Linked DNA regions of Homo sapiens: region 2 is linked to region 1. Evidence: fine-mapped expression QTL. A gene starts in region 1. The other region holds a variant in brackets. All regions are shown on one strand. Distances are from middle to middle. Region 1 holds the start of EPB41L1 (erythrocyte membrane protein band 4.1 like 1). Region 2 has its middle 35 kb from the start of NORAD.

Region 1 (2,903 bases):
AATGCCCTCTGCACTGATCTCCTCCAGGACTGCCTTGAGGTGCCCCTGAAATCCCAGGGACTGTGCTCTGCATGCCATAAATACTATGCCTGGGTTGCCAGGCAGGCATGACCTCAGGCTGGCCAGGAGAAGCCAGCTCCATCCTTGCACAGAGCTGGCAGAGCCTTCCTGGGCCACGGTGGCTCATAGGGGAGGCTGGCACAGGCTGCCTCTGCCGCAGGCTCCATCTGGAGGAATGGGTGGGCAGAGAGGCACACAGCTGCCTCTATTCTCCACACCCTTGCCCGGGACAGGAGGCACTGTCTTCCAAGAGCTGCGGAGGGCACCATCCAGGCCCCAGATCTTGACCTGGCTCAAGTGCCACTGATTCTGGAAGGCTCCTAATGCTGAGGGTGGGGGGATGGGGTGGGAATGAAGCCAAGCCGCTGGACCCCGCACAGCCCTGGAGAGGTCCTAAATCTGGCCGTCTCACATTCCCACCTTTGGGTGCAGAGGAGGTGCTATGCGGATCCAGAAGTGAATGTGGGAACACGTGGTGCTCTCTCCCCCACCAATGCATCCTCAGAGCTCCGAGGGAAAAGCAACGACGATGGCTGGCAGCTGAGGGAGAGACCAGCATCCCCAGAACTCCCTTTTGGTCCTTGTCCAGACTTCAAGGTCTCCATGGACCACTTTGAGCCATATACGTCTGCCAGTCAGTGGCCTCTGCACCCAGTAAGTACCCCAATGGCTGTAGACATTGGCCCCCCATGCCCATCCCTGAGACCCCAGCCTCTCGGGCCCTTGGACCTCCCCAAGTGTGAAGGTGCCAGACACAAGTGGGACACACAAGCCCTCTCCCTCTGATCAGGGGACGGTCACTGGCCAGGACAATGCCAGGCCAGAACTGCAGAAGTCCTAGGGCTAAGATCCCTCCTAGCAGCTCTGAGGTACTTGGAAGGGAGACGGAAGGGGAGGCAAGCCCAGAGCGGGGAAGGGTCCGTAACCAGAGTGAGGAGAGATGAGGGCAAGGGCTCGCCAGCATCCCAGGCTCCAGCCAAGAACTCCTCCTGCAGCGTCAGAAGCAGCAGAAATCCAAAGAGCCCTTGGCCTCTGGAGGCGGCAGCAGGAGTGCTCTCCGAAAAGAGACTGGGCCAGCCGGTGGGAGCCCAGCGCCCACCCACCGCTCATCCTACAGCAGGACCAACCCCCCGCCAACCCCCAGCCTCCGGATCCTCTCTCCAGGCCTTGGAGGAGGCTGCAGACCGGTAGGTAGGGAGGAACAGCGAGACCCTCCCCCACACTGGCCAGGGGACCAACAGCCTGAAAACTCAGTTCTCGGCCTCGCCCCCGTTCCTCCCCAGGGCTGGAGGCTGGGCCTAGATGTTGCAAGCCCCCGGCCCCGAGAGCCACCTGATTCCCCCATGTGCCTACCTGGGCCCGGGGTTCCCCATGTCGGGCAGGTTGGGCGAGGGGCGGCCCCCTCGGCTCCTCTGGCAGGCAGGCCGCGGGGCGGGGCGGCGCGGGGTCGCGGCGGGCTCTGCGGAGCAGCCTGTTCGGCGACACCCCCGCCCGCTGATGGATGCCGACTGCAGCAGCGGCGGCGGCGGCGGCGGCTCGGCGTGCGCCAGGGGCTGGGCACGGTGCCCACAGCCCCGGGCCTGGCGCCCGACGCGCGGCCAGCCCCCGCCCCCGCCCCGGCCTCGGAGCCCAGCCCAGGGGCGGCCGCCGCTTGCGCCTGCCTCCCAGCGCGCCGCGGCCCTGCCCCTGCCTCCGCCTCCTCTCTGCCTGTCTCCTCTACCACCCACCTCCCCCCGCGCCCCGCCCTCTCTCTCAGGCTCCCAGGCCACCTCCTCCCGGTCCGTGCCACACGGGCAGTTCCCAGACCACTGCGGGACTGTGCAGCTGGGGGGCCTCTCGAGCGCCCCGGCTGCCCCCACCCTGGTCCTAGCCAGCCCCGGGCCTCCTTGCTCTCGCCAAGCCCTCTTGGGGGCTCATCAGCGAGAAAGGGAGGGGGAGGAGAGAAGAGGGGGATGCATGCCTGACTCAGAAGGGGTGACTCAGCCTCAGTGGGCCTCCCATCCCACCGGAGCCGGATCCCCTCACCACCCCTGCAGCACAGCGACAGGGCAGAACCCGCCTAGGACTCGGCGTCCTCCCCCACCGGGAGGAGGTATTACAACTGTCTCCTGGGAATCCTCTGTGCCTCTGAGTGTGTCCAGAGGGTGTCTATGTGTACATTTGTCCACATGCGCCTTGGTGACAATGACAGTAAGTGTAACAGTGAGAGCCCAGGGACCTATTGGGGATGGGGCCTGTGTACAGGCGCACTTGCTGTATGTGTCTGAGCACAGGCTGAGTGTGCACCTGAGCTCCAGGAAAGGGCAGGGGCTGGCCAAGCAGCTTGTGGCAGAGATCATGGCTCAAAACCAAGGTAAGCCATGCTCCTCCCCTCCAGGAGCACTGTTACCCACTAAAAAAACCAGTCCAACCACTGCAGCACCTCCATCTCACACAATCCGAAGGTGGGGACCTCAAGCCACAGAGGACTCTGGGAGGGAGAGGGCCTGGGTTCCAGTCCAGGTCTGCCACTGGCTCAGCAAGTACCCTTGGGCAAGTTGTTCCATGCTCTGGGCCTCATTTGCAAATGACGAAAGGGCTGGACGTTCCTATCTCTAGGGTCCCTAGTTCATGGCGAAGGCATAGAGAGAATGGTGGGTAACCGCAGCATGATCTCCAAAGATTTCTGTCCATGGGTCCACTGCAACCCATATGACCGCGAACCCCCAGTCACCACCCTCACCTCCAGGCATACACAACTATTCATTCATTCTTCACATCATTCCTAAGTACCTACCATGTGCTGGCCATAGTTCTTACCACAGAATCCACTGCCCTGGGAAGCACAGAGGCCCCAAGCTGGG
Region 2 (2,903 bases), 69 kb after region 1:
ACTTGGGAGGCTGAGGCAGAGAATTGCTTGAACCCGGGAGGCGGAGGTTGCAGTGAGCCGAGATCACACCACTGCACTCCAGCCTGGGCGACAGAGCGAAACTCGTCTCAAAACAAAACAAAACAAAACAAAAAACAAAAAAAAAGAATAGACTGGGAGGCCATGGGAATGGAAAGCCAATGCAAGTGTGACTTGAAAGAGGCACTGGCACTAGGCTGGTAGTCAGGAGCTGCAGGTTCTAGTCCTGCCCCTGCCATTAACTTATTGTGTAGTCTCAGGTAAATCCCAGCCCTTGAGTAGATCCCTTCCTTTATTCAAATTTCAGAGATCCCATCTGTAAAATGCAGAATGATCTGCAATATCCTTCCTAACTCTGGATTCTGTGAATGGGAGAGAGATAATGAAGGATAACTGGGATGATGTATTAGAAAGCCTTCATACACTTCAAAGTAATAATATCATTAGTACAAGTACCATTGTTATTATTATTTCAAAGGCAGCCTCACCAGAACGTGGTGACTGGACTGGTAGGAGGGGACAGGACAGAGTCAAGTGGCCTGCATCTGTGGGTGGACAAGACACCAGGATCTCTGATCTTTTGGGAAGGTCAGCTAACCACTGTATCCCTCCCCCAAGATCTGTGAAGACAAACAGTATTCTGTGCCCTGTCACCTCATTAACTGCTTCCTCATTCCTTTGAGCCACACCTTATACTTGGCTAAAAGAAGCAACCAATTCTAAGAAAAGTTAGCCTCTGTACTCCCTCCTTTCAATGTTCAAAAATGGGTCCTCGTCTGGGACTTTCCCTATATAATAATAAGTTTCATCATCTCATATAGGAATAGCCAACATTATTGAGTACTTAGTATATGTTAGGAAATTTATTTACATAATTTTCTCACCCTGGGAGGTAGCTGTAATGGCTTATGAAGATCTATAACTTTCTCAGTCACATAGCTTATGAGAAGGATTCCAGTACAAGTCTGTGCGATTTCAAGGCTGCATTCTTAAAGATTTTTTTTTTTTTTTTTTTTTGAAATGGAGTCTTGCTCCATCACCCTGGCTGGAGTGCAGTAGCACTATCTTTGCCCACTGCAACCTCCATCTCCCGGGTTCAAGCGATTCTCATGTCTCAGCCTCCCAAGTAGCTGGGATTACAGGTGCCTGCCACCATGCCTGGCTAATTTTTGTATTTTTAGTAGAGATGGGGTTTCACCATGTTGGCCAGGCTGGTCTCGAACTCTTAACCTCAGGTGATCTGCCTGCCTCAGCCTCCCAAAGTGCTGAGATTACAGCCGTGAGCCACCCTGCCCGGCACCCTAAAGATTTTTACTATGTCTTTTTGTAGCAACTTAGGGAGGAGGGCAAGATCAGTGTTGTTGCCACTTTATAGCTGGGGAAACTGAAGCTCAGAGAAGGTAAATTCTGTCATTTGGACAAATTAGTAAAGTCTTCTATGGTGCAGTTTGGTGCTGTTTCTACTTCTCAGAGCTTCCTCCTCTGCACCTTCCAGGACCTCCCCAGTCCTCCTAGGAGTGATGAGTAGAGACTTGCCCAGACTACTTAAGGGAAGGACTTACACTTGTCCTTCTCCTGGGGAAGGGAAAGGTTCCTGAAAGGTGAAAGTTAATTTCCACCTCCCCTCCCCACCCACCAACTCACACACCCTAAACCAGGACCTTGTGGTGACC[C/G]GCGCTGAAGGCTTACAGAGTGAGTCATGCGGGGCTGACCTGTCAGAGTCACCCAAGCACAAGATACTAAGCTTAGTTTAGAGGGGTGGAAAAGTAGGCAAAGTGCTCTCATCCTCAGGAGCACAGTCCACTTGCAGCTTGTGCCCCTCACTCCTTTCATCCCAAAATACTGCAAACATTTGGGAACACTGTACAAGGGCCTTAGAGCAGAGGGAACACATGACAAATAAGAGTGAGTCCAAGGAGTTGAGATTGGAGTGGAGCCTTAAAGAGTGAATTCAGCACACAAATTAGGTAGAAGGGCCCTCCAGGCTGCAGGAATGCCCTAAAGCTTAAATATATTTGGATTCCATCTAACAGGCAGTAGGGAGCCATGGAGTTCACTATGGCTTTGGAGACTGTCTGAGTTTGAATCTGCCTCTGTCCCTTCCCAGTGGTTTGATCTTGGGAAAGTTACTCAACCCCTGTGGTTGACGTATTATTTTTCTCCATTATTTGCCCTTCCCTTGGCCAGTAAGAGAATTATCCATCCTAGCCAGTTGCCATGTGACTTGTGTACCTTCCAGAGGAAGGAGTGCACTTCCCCAGCCCATTGTCAAGCTTAACCACATGACTTCCTTTGGCCAATGAAATGTGAGCTAGAGAGATACATGCCAGTTCGAAGCAGAAACTTGGAGTGCCATTGCATGTTTGAGTCTGAAATCTTACTTTTTTATCTCTGCCACTGGAAATGTTGTGTCTTGGATAGGGCCTGCACCTTCAGCCTGGACCCTGGAATGAAAAGACACAGAGCAAAGCTGCAGTGAATCTACAGCTGTGATGTGTAATGTGATGAAGAAAGCAATTGGCTTTTTGTAAGTCACTGAGAGTTTGGGGTTGTTTGTTATCACGTCATACTTAGCAAATGCTGACTGGCACACCTCTCAACAGTAGGTGATTTTAGTAGCATCTACCTCACGGCACTGCTGTGAGGATTAAATAAGATTATCTCATGAAAAATGTCTAACCATTTCATCAGAGATTTATATTATAAAATGACCACTCTGCCCACACATAAATGGACACTGGATAAACAACAGAAATAGAATTTGCAAAAGAGTAGCAAAAGATGATGCTATATAGTGGGCTGAATAGTGTACCCCGCAAAATTCATGTCCCCTCAGAACCTCAGAATATTAACTTATTTGGAAATGGGGTCTTTCCAGATGTAAT

The links. PIP is the estimated chance that this variant, and not a neighbour inherited with it, causes the effect. A credible set is the group of variants that fine-mapping cannot tell apart.
Region 2: its variant is the best candidate, but not a certain one, in a credible set for the expression of EPB41L1 in esophagus mucosa (GTEx, PIP 0.59).

What each region holds. Positions count from the first base shown.
Region 1 is chr20:36,153,407-36,156,309 of GRCh38, reverse strand. EPB41L1 (erythrocyte membrane protein band 4.1 like 1) reads right to left here and starts at 1,570. Exons shown (of 22, transcript NM_012156.2): 1 at 1,414-1,570. It overlaps EPB41L1-AS1 (EPB41L1 antisense RNA 1), which reads left to right and starts at 550. Exons shown (of 4, transcript NR_147703.1): 1 at 550-714; 2 at 1,056-1,247. It overlaps LOC124904893 (a long non-coding RNA gene), which reads left to right and starts at 1,864. Exons shown (of 2, transcript XR_007067572.1): 1 at 1,864-2,413. RefSeq lists a silencer at 1,632-1,831.
Region 2 is chr20:36,084,738-36,087,640 of GRCh38, reverse strand. No RefSeq gene overlaps it. Among named protein-coding and RNA genes, the nearest start is that of NORAD, 35 kb to the right of the region's middle. The variant C/G (reference allele first, on the strand shown) is at 1,692.